Linked DNA regions of Homo sapiens. The protein of the gene in region 1 purifies or fractionates together with the protein of each later gene. This does not show direct contact. Each region holds a gene or a part of one and is shown on either strand. Other genes may lie near its edges.

Region 1 (4,154 bases):
GGTGACACAGCGAGACTCCATCTCAAAAAAAAAAAAAAATTAGCTGGGCACAGTGGTGGGCACCTGTAATCCCAGCTACTCAGGAGGCTGAGGCAGGAGAATCACATGAGCCTGGGAGGCGGAGGCTGTGGTGAGCCAATATCGTGCCATTGCACTCCAGCCTGGGCAACACAGCAAGACACTGCCTCAAAAAAAAAAAAAAAAAAAGAGAAAGGATAATATATCAAGAAAAGTAATATGGTAATATGGATAAATAGAAATTATCTTGCATTTTCAAATTATTTGGGAGCAAATATTCTTTTCTCAAATCGAAAAATTCTAAAAATAATGTATGTCTTATTTCTCCACAAACTACCCAGACAACATTTGGCCATTTGGGCAAACTATCCAACATGTATTCAGATATTAAATAAAATATTAGGTCACATTCTAATCCATGACCATACAGAAGTTTTAGAGGGACATTAAACATGATCTGCCTTTACATTAATTGGATCTAAGAACTACATATCACATACTACATTAAGAAGTCTAGATCCCCCTTATTTGATAAAATTAAGCCAAAGCTTTTTTTAGGATTATAAAATGTTAATCAATTAAACATTTTATTTTTTCCAAATATTCCAATCCAAAAATTTAAGTCTTAAAGCCAGTAAGACCAATAAGTAGGTTTGTAATAAACACATGAACTCAGAATTAATAATCAGTTTGCAAAAAAAATTTTTTTTTTTGAGACAAGAGTTTCGCTCTTGTTGCCCAGGCTGGAATGCAATGGTGTGATCTCGGCTCACTGTAACCTTTGCCTCCAACAATTCTCCTGCCTCAGCCTCCCGAGTAGCTGGGATCACAGGCATGCGCCACCACACCAGGCTGATTTTGTATTTTTGGTAGAGACAGGGTTTCTCCATGTTGGTCAGGCTGGTCTCGAACTCTGGTGGGCAGTGCAGTAGGTGGGAAAATATACTGGACTAGGAGTCATAAGTGGGTTCTAGTTTTAACCTGGCCACTAACTAGTTACATGGCCTCAGGGAAAACACTTTTAATGAGAGAGATAAGCTTACTCACTTCTAAAATCTCTTCCAGCTAAACAAATTTAGAAGTGCACAAGTAAGAAATTAACATACAGATATTTCTCTAGATTACTTCTGTAATTCAACCACAATGCACTGAAATTCTTGACACCCTTTTTTCTCTTCATATGCCTTCAAAATTGACAATGGCATCTGCTGTTCATTCTTCTTTCCTCCCTAGCACATCATGTGCTTATAATACATTTTGTATATAAAGATGACACTAGTGATCCAAAATTAGTGGGTGACTAATGATGGACCCATCAACTCTCATTCTGTCCTCCTAAAAAATGTCTTGTAGTTCCCCAGTGACTTAGCTGGCCAAAGTACAGACAGTGGTTATGAAACAGCATTTTTCTCTGTGTGAAGCCAACTAACCCTGTTAGCTGGACATAAGATTGATAATGTCACGCTTACTGGTAAGCAATTTAACTCATTCTCATTAACATCTAGCAAAATAAGTTGAGAGGAAAACTACTATTAAATCTGTTACACTCTTGGGAACCCCATTTTGCAAGAAGGCGGCAGACACTTATGATCCATTGAATATATTAGTGTTTAGTCTGTGATTCTGAAATATACTTCCAAAACACACACGGATTCGGAGAAAAAAACAGGACAAGGTGATGCGAGTATGTAAGTATCCCCTAAGATAGGTCCCTGAAAAATCCTTAATAGTATATCACATTTGGATACGTTTCAGTCGCAGGAAGGCAGGAATGCTGGATTGAAAACACAATACCAGGAACCTAAGAGAAGTCTGAAGGAAAACACAAGTATATGCGTATATATTTTCACTGGAGAATGACGTGAAGCAAAACTAAAAAACAAAACAGTAAGGCAAAGATGGTCACGCGAATGGGAGAGGTGTACGCCAGCGTCAAAAGCGAGATTTAAAGAATTTACTCAGTTGTCAACATCGGTGAAAATCGCATGTGAAATCTTTGTCAGGACTCAGTGTGATGCTGAACTACAATCATTCACTGTTCCTAGCAACTGTGCACAAGTATGCTAGAGCCTTTAACAGAATAAAGTGCTTGGGGAAAACCTCTCACAAGAGGACAAAGGGTCAATGTTACAGCATGAGCCGCCCCAAATCTGAGTGCTGTCAGGAAGGGGAGATGGAGGAAGGTATTCCAAGAGTGAACAGGAATCAGCCAAGGCGAAAGAAAACATGTGCGTGGAGGTGGAGGTTGGTAATATATGGCCACCCCGTCTGCCCTCCGAAGATGCCATAAAAGGGGTGGGATGGCATCAGGCGTCAGGTCCCAGGTCCCCGGCCCCTGGCAGTGAGGTGGGCGTAGAAAAAGGCGTAGAAGAGGGTCTGGGAGACGCGGCATTCCAGGGGTTTGGCGACAGCACCACTCCATCCCTCCGCAGAACGCAGGCCCCTTCTCACCTGGGCGCCGCCGCCTGGCAGCTGCGGGCAGCGGGGAGAACTGGGGAACACGTCGAAGTCACTCTCTTCCTCAGCCTCACCCTCGGCCCGAGGGAGGCTCCAGGGTCCCGGAGGCGGCCACGGTTGTTCCATGTCCGGCTGCTCCGGGTCCTACAACCGCCCTTGGCCCTACAACTGCCACTGCCAACAGACTTGGCGTGAATGGAACCTGCTGCGCCGAGCCAGAAGCCCAGCCGGGGGTCCGGGCCGTTACCCAGAATCCCTCTACTGGCCGCGACGCCGCTGCACACCCGGCGACAGCCTGGGCCTCGCCACCGGCGGACGGCGGAAGAAATAGTCGGCGCGGTGCGTCACTTCCGGTTGGGGCGGGGCTGTGGAGGCGCGTCCCGGGCCCTTTGCGTGTAGTGGGTGGATCTGCAATTGTATTCCTGTTTCAAGCCCCGTTTTCTTGCAGCTCTTCGGCACTGCAAACCTAACCGCTAATGGCGCTGTGGGTGGAGAAACGTTTGTTAGGTAGCGTTATATATTGTTATCTGGTGTTCCCTATACCGAAAACGGCGGGTCCTGGCCGCCGGGAGGTACTCAGACCAGGTGTGCACTTTACATGTTGCTTAAAAATTGCAACTCATTCCTTTACATTGACATTTAAACCAGTGATTCTAAGGCAGAGTTGGGGCGGAGGGAGGAGAATTTTGAACAAGCGGAGCCAATTTTCGTCTCATTTCTAATTACAGGCAACAACAGAATTCTGCGAAACTTGGTTGGTTGGAGGAGCACACCAAAAATAAAGTACCGGAGCCGGCACGGCTTCAAAAAAATTAGGATCAGTACCGCTAGTAGCGAACGCATAAGAAGGGCTTCCTGTATGCCTGCGTATCTTGTTTAAGCCTAAAGATATGTACTCTCTTTATCCTCTTTTTTTGAGACGAGGAAGTAGACCCAGCATGCCCGAGATCACACATTTTACAAGGAAGAAGTAGGATCCAGACCCAGGGAGTTTAACTTCAAAACTTGAACGTTTAACAATCAGGTCTTGCTGCCCTACTCATAAAGAGACCCAAATAAAAACAACATGACGCCATTTTTTTCCATGTGTTTAGACTGGCAAACTTGTGAAGTCGCTTAATACCAAATGTGTACCAAGATGTAAGGAAATGATGTGAGAATGTCATTAGTATAACCTTTTAGGAGGAGTAATTTGACAATATGAGAGGCTTGAGCGGATTGATTCAGCAATTTCACCACTAAGAAAGTATGCAACAATTATTTTTGCACCAATATCCAAAGATTTACTACAAAGATTTCTGGCAGCAATTTTTGTGTGTGTGTGGCAAGAAAAAAAAAAGCATTCTAATTGTCCATCGATAGAGGAACTTAAAGTATGGAATATTAATACAATGGCATATTACCCTTTTTAAAAAAAGTAAATTGTATCTGAATATGCTGATATATAAATACCTCCAAAAGGTATTGAGTTTTAAACAAAGCAACTTGCAGAATTAAACATATGCGTACGTATACAGAGAGAGAAGAGAGAGGGATGGTATTTGTTTGCGTCCGTGTGTGTGTGTGTGTGTGTGTGTGTGTGTGTGTGTGTTTGCGCAGAACATTCCTGGAGGATATGCAAGAAACTGTTAATGATTACCTCTGGTGGGTGAGCCTAGGAAGGAAAGCTTCTGAGGATC
Region 2 (3,500 bases), on another chromosome or scaffold:
AACCCCCATGCTGAGTAAAAGTTGTGAGGATAGGGATTTTTTTTCTTTGTTGTATCTTGAATCCTTAGAACAGTGCGTGTAGAATGAATGATAGAATTTGAAAGTACAGAAAGTACAGATGGTTCCGAACTTACCATGGTGTAACTTAAGATTTTTTTGACTTAACAATGGTATTATCAGGCTATAACCACATTGTAAGCAAAGGAGCATCTGCCTGTATTAGCAGGATTTGCTAATGGATTCGATGTGAAGGGAATTCAAGCATCTGGGTGATTGGTGACACCATTAACCAACAAGGTGAAAATGGGGTGGGGGCAGGTTTATACTTTTTCCTCATGTTAAATTTTAGATCACTTAAGGAATGGAGATACAATTGTATTTACATGTATATGAGGTAGAAGTAGTAGATAAAAGGGAATTAGTAATTACTGGATTGGGGAAGGCAGTGCAAATGGTAGGGTAATAGAGGAAGATCAAGGAGAAGGTATCAGATGTGTTTTGAAAAGTGAATGACAGGGAAAACAGAGAAAGGGTATTTCAAGCGTAAGTAATAGCACAAGTATAGAGAAAATTATGTAATGGTACAAATTTGCTGCTGTGGAATTGAGATTAATAGAGATAAGTAGACCTGGCCAGATCCTAAAAGGGTTTAGTGATGCAGGGAAGTTAGATTGTACGTTAGAGTGTGGAGGCCATTGAAATTGAAGAATTTTTTAGTCTTTTTCATTGAAATATAACATTGAAGTTTGTTAAAGGATATACAAATATAAATTTGTAGCTCAAGGGATTTTCACAAAATTAAACACACCAGCAATGCAGAGCACTCCTTATGTGTTTTCTCATTCATTATCTTCCTCAAATGTTTTTCTGTCAGTCAACATATGTTTTTTCTGTTTCTGAGTTTAATGTAAAAATAACCATAGAATATGTACTTGTTTTTGTCGTCTTCTGCATAATAATGCTTGTTTTATTTATCTTTGTTGCATGTAGCTTTAGTTTTGTTTTTTTATTTCTTTAAGGTATGTCATTATTTGAATGTGCCACAACTAATTTCTACTTTATATTGTCCTTTAATTTTAAAAAATTGTTTTTAATAATGCTATTATGAACATTCTTTTTGAGATGGAGTTTCACTCTTGTAACCCACCCTGGAGTACAATGGTAGGCTCTCGGCTCACTACAACCTCCGCCTCCCGGGTTCAAGCGATTCTTCTGTTTCAGCCTCCTGAGTAGCTGGGTTTACAGGTGCCCACCACGCCTGACTAATTTTTGTATTTTTACTAGAGACAAGGTTTCACCATGTTGGCCAGGCTGGTCTCAAACTCCTGAACCTCAGGTGATCCACCCGCCTCGGCCTCCCAAAGTGCTGGAATTACAGGCGTGAAGCCACCGCAGCCGGCCTATTATGAACATTCTTGTGCATGACTTTTGTGACACATATACACATTTCCATTTCTAGTATTTTGGATTTTTTTTTTTAAATTTTGGCATATGTGCATTATACTTATCAGTTAGTTCAGCATCCCTAATCTGAAATGCTCCAATGAGCATTTTCTTTAACTGTCATGTTGGCTCTCAAAAAGTTAACAGATTTTTGGAGCATTTGAGATTTTGGATTAGGTATGCCCACCTGTATATCTTTAGCATTAACAGATACTTCCACATAGTTTTCCAAGGTGGTTGTATTTGTTTACGTTTCTACCAGCAGTATGTGAGGCTAGTTCAACTTGTCCTATGGTTTCTTAACATTTTGTTATACGAGTTTTTTTTGTTTTTTTTTTTTTTTTTGTATTTTAACCATTCTAGTGTGTGTATAGTGTTTTGTCATGGTTTTGATTTGTACTTCCCTAATGATGACTGCTTTTTTGTATGTTTATTAGCCATTTGTATATCCTCTTGTGAAGTGTGCAGAATCTTTTACCTATCTCTAATGTCTCTTGCTTACCAGTTTGTAAGAATTCTTTATATATTTTAGCTGTGACTCTTATCAGAAATTCTATGCTTTTTCACTGTCTTAATGACGACTTTGATAAACTTTTTATCAAATTGCTTTTTAACAAAATCCAATTTGTCCATCATTTTGTTTATGACTAGTGCTTTCCATGTTCTATTTAAGAAATCGTTGCTTACTTCAGGGCTGTGAGTGTTTTCTCATATGGAGGCACATTTAAATATGTAAATGACCTGGAACTGATTATTGTATAAGGTGTGACATGGATGTAATTAAAGAACTTTAAACAAAAGGGTGATAGTAATTTGATAATTAGTAGAAAATAGAAGTCGAAGGCTGAGAAATAGTAGAAACCTGTTAGTATAGTCTGATTGCTTAAAATCTGCTAGCTTATGAGGAAGATTAACAAATTAATATATTCAAGTCAAATTGATGAGATTTCATTATAGACTGCCTATGGGTGGAGGGAGAGGAGATGCTGAAGAGGAACGAATGGATTTTGCTTTGAGAAACTGAGTCTGTACGGTGCCATCAAATAATATGGGGAAAAGAATGGACTGTGGGGGCAATAGCATTAAGTTTAGTAGATGCTAACATACTGAGTTTTATGTTCTTGTGAAATATCTTAAGGAGAAATACACATCTAATACTGTACTTTGGATTTATAAAAGATAAACACAGAATTTTATTTTCTGTTTGTAGGTAGTGCTATAAATACAAAAATAGAAAATATACTACTGGCTACATCCATGTTTTATTAACATAATTTTTTGTGAATTCATCTGTAGAGCCTCCATCTACAGCAGCAATGGGGCCCGGATCTTCCAGACAAACCCTGGATATATATATAGGTCTGCAGCTCATTTTACCCTTTATAGGGATAAGAAATCACCATCACTCTAGAACTTCCAGAATTGCTTATTAGATTTCTCATATTATTTGACAATACTTACATGGAGTTTACTGTACACATAAGTCATGCAGTAACTGTATTTTTATTGAGAGTATTAATCCCTTGGTTTCAACATTGTTTTTGAAATTAGTAACTAAGTAAGTACTTGAATATGATTGGATGGGATCTCATACTCAAAAGGCTGAAAGCATCTTAATATGACTTTCTCAAAGGAACCTAAAACTTAACCAAGTCCAAAAGGGAATCATTTTTCATTTTTTAACAGAATGGCGTGGGATGGATTTATGAATTTTCTAGGTAATTGTCATTTAAGTATTTTGCAAAGTTCGTAGAGGTCACCAATACTGCAAATATGTATGAGATGTAACTGTAAGATACGCAGCTAATTTTTTTTCTCTTTGTTTCCTTTTTAGACATACCAGGGTCTAGAGAGTCTAGAAGAAGTCTGTGTATATCATTCTGGAGTACCTATTTTCCATGAGGGGTAACTTATGCATGACTTATTAAAATAGTTTATGGTAGAATTTAGAAAGTTAAACCTTTCTGTCTTTAAACATTGTTTGCCATGCAGTGTTATTAGGCATTTTACTTACATTGCCATTAACATCTTCACAATAGCCTACACAAACACAGGGG
Region 3 (3,500 bases), on another chromosome or scaffold:
TTCGATTTGCCAGTATTTTATTGAGGATTTTTGCATTGATGTTCATCAGGGATAGTATTTTGCCCTTTTTTAAATTAAGGTTTTTTACATGTTGGTTTTGTTTCATTATTGAGTTGTAAGAGTTCTCTATATGTGCATTATCAAATGTGAATTTTGCAAATATTTTCTTCCAGTCTGATTTCCCTTTATTTTCTTAATGATGTGTCTCAGACCAGGCGTAGTGGCTCACACCTGTAATCCCAGCACTTTGGGAGGATGAGGTGAGCAGATGGCTTGAGCCCAGGAGTTTGAGACCAGCCTGGGCAACATGACAAAACTCCGTCACTACAAAAAAAATACAAAAATTATCCGTGCATGGTGGCCTATGCCTGTGGTCCCAGCTATTTGAGAGGCTGAGATAGGAGGATCGCTTGAGCCCAGGTGGCCAAGGCTGCAGTGAGCCATGATACCACTGCACTCCAGCCTGGGAGAAAGAACGAGACCCTGTCTCAAAAAAAACCCCAAAAAACAGTGTGTCTTGTGAACAAAAGCTTTTGATTTCATCAAATCCAGTTGACTGTTTTTTTCTTTAATAATTTATGTTCTGTATGTCCTTTTGAGAAACATTTGCCTACCCCAGAGTTGCAAAGATTTTCTCTTACAAGTTTTATAGTTTTGACTTTTACAATTAGGTCTATGGCGGCAGGAACCGTATTTTAATGAAGGTATCATAAAGGAGAAAAGAAATATTTCTTAAATATTCCTCCTATAAACATGTAGACATTTATAGTACAAACTTTAGTACAGTTTTAAAATACTTGTATAAAACTGTGCTCAGTACTGTATTTGGAAGATTTCAACTAAGCTCCTGATCACACAAATTATATTGTCTAGGACAGGGCTACTGCCTATTTTTAAAGGTCCTCTATATATTCAATTTTAGCATGTCGATTGATACTACTTGGATGTGATTTTATAATACTCAATAAGCACTTGTTGGTTGATTATAAACGGTTTAAAGATTGGTAGTATGGATTATCTAAAACATTATTTTGATTTGTTTTTGTATATATTTTGATTGATATGTGTCTGATCTGAAAATTCAGAATACTTCAGAACAATAAATGTATAATAAAAAGTGGTTTTCTTTATTTAATGATGTTTAAGAACAATGCAATCCTATTAACCTTTATAATTTTAGATTTAGTGAATTATCTCCCTAAAACTGTTGACTTAATACTGTAATATAGTTGTACTTTTAAACATACTTTAAGAAGTCTTCATACTGTTTAATTTTTTTCTTGATTATAAGAATAATCCATATTTACAAAACATTCAAATATGAACAGGATATATAGCTTTATAAGTTTGATGTTTTCAATAGAATTTCTATTAACTGAATAAAATTACTTTTAACAGATATTCTAAGGAAATCTCAGTTTTGGATAAATTCTTGTAGCATCGTTGTAATGTTCCTACTAAATTTACATGATGAACCAATTAGATCTTTTATATGTAATATTATTTGCTGGAATATACACACACTCTGTGTGTGTGTGTGTGTGTGTGTGTGTGTGTGTATACACTGTATTTTTGCCAGGTGAGCCAGGATAGCTTCCATTCAGTACTTTGTTTTCTAGTTACATTGCAAGATAAAAATTGTGGTAATGACATTGATGAACACTGAGCAGGTTATAGTAACTTAGCAAGAGTAATGCTTTTTCTGCTTGAAGCATTAGGGCTCTAATCAAAATTAGACTGTAATTTCTTATGATTAGCCCAGTTCTTTGCACAGTAGAGATGTAATGTGATCAAGTGGAGAGGGCAACTAACATGCCTTTTGGTGATAGATTTCTTTTACCATGCCTTCAGATTTTTATAAGGCAGCTAACAGGAGGTAGTCATTTATGTTTGAATGTAATCATTTCACCTATGAGCTTGCAGCCTTCCAAAATCATCTTCCTTTTTTTTTTCTTTTTTTTTCGAGACGGAGTCTCCCTCTGCCAGGCTGGAGTGCAGTGGTGCAGTCTTGGCTCACTGCCATCTCCACCTCCCGGGTTCAAGCAGTTCTCCTGCCTCAGCCTCCCGAGTAGCTAGGACTACAGGCGCATGCCACCACACCCAGCCAATTTTTTTATTTTTGGTAGAGACCAGGTTTTACCACGTTGGCCAGGCTGGTCTCAAACTTCTGACCTCATGTGATCCGCCCGCCTCGGCCTCCCAAAGTGCTGGGATTACAGGCGTGAGCCACCAAGCCTGGCCTAAAATCTTTCTTTCATGATCCAACGTATCGTTTCTCAGAACTCTGAAAGCATATATCTAACTATGCTCGGTGTTCCTTTCTTAGCATCGCCAACACTAAGATGTCACGATTGCTTTCTTACAAACTTTTCATCCCTTCTACTTTATAAAGTAGTTCCCCTCTGTTAAGTTGGGATTGGATTTAGTGTTTCCTCTGCTTTCTGAGAGAGAAAATACCAGCGCAATTTTTCTTTTCTTTTCTTTTCTTTTTTTGAGACATAGTCGCCCTCTGTCGGCCAAACTGGAGTGCAGTGGCACAATCTTGGCTCGCTGCAACCTCTGCCTCCTGGGTTCAAGTGACTCTGGTGCCTCAGCCTCCTCAGTAGCTGGGATTACAAGCCCGCACCACCACACCTGGCTAATTTTTGTATTTTTGGTAGAGATTAGGTTTTGCCATGTTGGCCAGGCATGTCTTGAATTCCTGGCCTCAAGTGATCCACCTGCCTCGGCCTCCCAACGTGCTGGGATTACAGGCGTGAGCCACTGCGCCCGGCCCCATCACAACATTTCTAAAATTTATTAAGTTCACTGCTTTTACCTGAATTAGACTTTCCACTATTCTCTGGGCCATAGACGTTCCTAAATATATCTACTGTGTAACTGTCATTTTTCTTTCCTATGTCTTTCCAATTGTTTCAAATTTATTCCTGTAGTTAGATATAATCCCTGCTTAGCATGGTGGCCTGAATATAGTTGGTATTCAGTATTTTTACATCGATATATTTATTAAACATTGTGGTCAGTTAAGGATTACAGCGATCTAAAAGTTTAATGCATATCCTTGAGCTTATGTTCTTGATGGAGAGGTAAGACTAACACATGAAAGAATTTGAGAATAGTCTCCTGTGGCAAAGATAATGTTTACAGAATATAAACATTCTGTTATAGAAAAATCTTTGTTGATTGTGAAAATGAAATGGGCCTGTGGGGAAAGTAAAAGTTAAGTTTGACCCTCCAGAGTGGGTAAAATTTTGAATAAATAGTAACTTTATTATTTGGCTATATTTAGACTCTTTATCCTGAGTAAGGAAAGGAAAAGGAAGTACAGGTGAAGGAAAGATAATAGCTCTTGTATTTTTTCATGTTTAAAACATCATCTGGGAACATGACACTCCCTGCTTACCATCATCTGCTTACCATATAATAGGGTGTTTCCACTGGGGTAGTTGCAAAAATACAATATGACATTTCAGCCTCTTGTGGTACTCTACAAGGAAGCA
Region 4 (3,500 bases), on another chromosome or scaffold:
CACAAGGACTAAAATATGGAAGTATGGAGTCCTTCTCAGGCTGTATTTAGTTTGCTTTAACAGATCAATATTTCTGAAAGTATGGTCCCCAGACCAGCAGTGTCATCATCACCTGGTTGTTAAAAATGCAAATTCTCGGGCCCCACCAATGATCTACTAAATCAGAAAATCTAGGGGTAGTGCCCAGGAGTCTGTTTTAACAAGACCTCCAGAGGTTCTGGTGTACCCTACAGTTTAAGAATCACTGAAAAAGATATAAATTGGCAGCTTGGTTTTATACTTGACATATCATGATGAACATCCTTACAAGTCAGTAGATAAAACCAGATGTCTCTATTTCTTTTCCTTTATTCTTTATGCATATATACACATATATAATTGTGCATTAACAGGATCATTTTAGAAATGTTTTGGGGTTTCTTATTGCAGCCTGTTTTGTTTTACTTGTCTTCACTCTTCCCCTTCCCCAATGCCACCTCCTCCCCTCAAGCAACTCGTGTTAACAACTTAGCATATGCCATTCTGTATTTTCCCCATTCTTATCTAGCACATAAAACACACCCTTAGAGGCTAGACTTTAGATTGTCTGCTTTAAGAAAAATGGGATTATATTTTATACATTACTCTGCTTATCAGTTTCTCTTCCAAAAATACCCCATGAAACTGTTTCCAAGGTAACTGTTTTAGCTCTAAATCTTTCTTTGTAATGGCTGCATGATGTTTCATGTATGGATACACCATGATTTATTCATTCATCTCAATATTGCTGGCATTATGAATAAAGCATAATAAATTAATATTTTTATGTATACACATATATATGTATATATATATACACACACACATATATATGTGTATATATATATACACACACACATATATATGTGTATATATATATATACACACACATATACCCTGATGTATTTATTTCTATAGTATATTCTCCTAAGACAAGATAGCCAGGTTGAAAGTACATTTCTCATGTTAAAAAATGTTTCCATTGCATTTCAAAAAAAAGGATTTAAATTTTACATTTCCACTAATTGTGTATGATAAGGGCTTTCTCCCCCATACTGCTATCAGCTATAGGTGTTATCATTTGATTAAACTTTTGCCAATCTGATAGGAGCAAAGTGGGAACCCATTTTTCCTCTTCTGTCTGCTTAATTGATATTTTTTAAAAATAGACACATTCCATTTGGTGAGGAGCTGCAAGTTCCACAGCATGCTTTTGATCCTTACTTCACTTCAGTGGACCTCTCCATAACTCACTTCATAAAGGGAGCAGTATTTTCCCTTTAAAGCATAATGAGAGTGGGCCCTCTTAAAATTCCTGTTTAGAGAAATCTAGAAATCTAGATTATCTCTTCTGCGTGAGCTGAAAGTCGGACAGTGCATCTTATATTATTCATATGTAACCTGCCTCACTCCCCAGTTCTCTCTAGAGCCTCCATTTTCAGAACCTTTCTTTCTGCCTTCTTCTGCTCCACCCATTCCCCTGTTTATTTTAAACCTCCAGTATTTCCTTTAAAAAATGATTTTAAACTAAGCTTGGAAAACAGAATGCATTCTGTTGCAACAACATTTGTTGATAACACTTTAGGGCTTTAGCAGGTGAGGTATGATGCTGGAAGCCCAATGGCCTCATTGACTGAGTGCAAACTAGAGTAGGAGGGACCCCAGTTCTTCAAACTGGATACCTCTCCCAGTACAGGGCTCTGCCTATCCACTTCCCATCCACTAGCACCTAAAGCAACCTATAGCAGAGAGAAGCCCTGTGGGCCCTGGCAGATCCTCATAGAATTGTGAGGAACTCTGGCTTCCCTTCCAAAGTCCAGGAGTCCAGGGAGCATCCTGACCTCCCTGGCGTTTTTTGAGAGGAGTGTCACTCACTAAAGAAGATTTTGGAAGCCTGGGGGCCCAGCAGCAACCACGTATCAGAGCCTACCTGTCTGGTTCTTGAGCTCTGGAAGTGGGAGATTAGAGTCCATCAACAGCTTACAAAGACTGGAGTCCCCGTGGGTGCACCGCTGGGTCTTCCTCTCATCCAGTTGGTGTTTCTGCTGGTTTCTGTCCTAGCATTACAGCTACCCTAGGAACCCACTGCAGGAGGAAAATAAGACAGTTGAAGGTGTCACAGATGTAGGGATCCAAGTAGTGATTCACTTTAACAACTTGCATTTGATTGCTTAGAATGTATGTAATATGCAATATATATGCAATACCGCTCCTCATTCTGAGGGTGTTTAATGTTTCCCTTCACCAAAATGCAGCATCTAGACCGGCTTATGAATCTTCCGCTGCATTCCGTGAAGATGGAACCTTGTTATACTAAAGTCAACCTGCTTCACGAGCGCCTGCAGGATCTCAAGAGCCGCTTCAGATTCCCCCACATTGATCTGGTGGTTCAGAGGACACAGAACTACATGCAGGAGGTGGGTGTGGCAGGGGCATCCGTGGTGGATGAGGGTAAAGAGAGAGCAGAGAAATGGGTGCTGGCCAGTGAGACCAGCTGCTAGTGTAGCTCAGGGAAATACGTCGCGTCTCTTTAGCCATCATGTTGCGGGAGGACACGTTCTGTCCCTCCACTGGCTTCATCTTCCATCCATGTGGATGAACATCATAGACAAGACATAGCTCAGAAAAATAAAGTAGCATTAATTGATAACTACTTGATTTGTCAAATCAGTGCTGTAACCTTGGCTACACATTGGAATCACCTGGGGGAAATACTGATGTCCAGGCTGGCGTGCAGTGGCATGATCTTGGCTCACTGCATGCAACCTTTGCCTCCCGGGTTCAAGTGATTGTCTTGCCTCAACTTCCTGAGTAGCTGGGACTACAGGCATGTGCCACCATGTCTGGCTAATTTTTGTATTTTTAGTAGAGATGGGGTTTTTACTGTGTTGGCCAGGCTGGTCTCAAACTCTTGACCTCAAGTGAACTGCCCACCTCGGCCTCCCAAAGTGCTGGGATTACAGGCATAAGCCACCACACCCAGCCTATATGGCTACTTTTTGATAGAACTTCCCTACCCTGATTCCTACTGTTTCTAATATGCAGCCAGGATTGAGAGCCACTGGCTTAAATTAATTCCCTAACGTAATTAAGAGTAAACCAATCAATCAATCACAGCTTCATATTTGAATTTCTTGAGTCTACTTGACAGGTTTCTTTTTTTTTTTTTTCATAAGGAACCTTTTCCCCAGTAACAGGAATGAATAGCACAAACTCCTTCCGTATTATAGTGTTTCCTAAATGAATAAGGGGTACGGTCACCAAAGCTCTAAAGGACACCATGCCATTTCACACAGATATTCTGAGGAGAGATTACTGTGGGCCGGACACTGTACCAGATCCCACTTCAGGGAGCTTGAGTGAGACAAATTCTTAGATAAATTCACTACAATGTTGAAGGTATGATAAAGGTATATATTGTGGCCAGGCACAGTGGCTCACGCCTGTAATCCCAGCATTTTGGGAGACCGAGGCGGGTGGAT

The links. The genes of interacting proteins can lie anywhere in the genome.
Region 2: the proteins of CDC37L1 (region 1) and CHORDC1 purify together in Homo sapiens (affinity purification with mass spectrometry; one study listed by BioGRID and IntAct). This does not show direct contact.
Region 3: the proteins of CDC37L1 (region 1) and RELCH fractionate together in Homo sapiens (co-fractionation; one large-scale study listed by BioGRID). This does not show direct contact.
Region 4: the proteins of CDC37L1 (region 1) and NIBAN1 fractionate together in Homo sapiens (co-fractionation; one large-scale study listed by BioGRID). This does not show direct contact.

What each region holds. Positions count from the first base shown.
Region 1 is NC_000009.12:4,678,215-4,682,368, reverse strand, and holds the start of CDC37L1 (hsp90 co-chaperone Cdc37-like 1), read right to left. Parts: upstream 2,801-4,154; 5' UTR 2,602-2,800; coding exon 2,470-2,601; intron 1-2,469. UniProt on the Homo sapiens protein: Co-chaperone that binds to numerous proteins and promotes their interaction with Hsp70 and Hsp90.
Region 2 is NC_000011.10:90,206,050-90,209,549, reverse strand, and holds part of CHORDC1 (cysteine and histidine-rich domain-containing protein 1), read left to right. Parts: intron 1-2,739; coding exon of another isoform or gene 2,740-2,802; intron 2,803-3,277; coding exon 3,278-3,348; exon of another isoform or gene 3,349-3,349; intron 3,350-3,500. UniProt on the Homo sapiens protein: Regulates centrosome duplication, probably by inhibiting the kinase activity of ROCK2. Proposed to act as co-chaperone for HSP90. May play a role in the regulation of NOD1 via a HSP90 chaperone complex. In vitro, has intrinsic chaperone activity.
Region 3 is NC_000018.10:62,193,755-62,197,254, forward strand, and holds part of RELCH (RAB11-binding protein RELCH), read left to right. Parts: intron 1-3,500. UniProt on the Homo sapiens protein: Regulates intracellular cholesterol distribution from recycling endosomes to the trans-Golgi network through interactions with RAB11 and OSBP.
Region 4 is NC_000001.11:184,807,009-184,810,508, reverse strand, and holds part of NIBAN1 (protein Niban 1), read left to right. Parts: intron 1-2,273; coding exon 2,274-2,435; intron 2,436-3,500. UniProt on the Homo sapiens protein: Regulates phosphorylation of a number of proteins involved in translation regulation including EIF2A, EIF4EBP1 and RPS6KB1. May be involved in the endoplasmic reticulum stress response.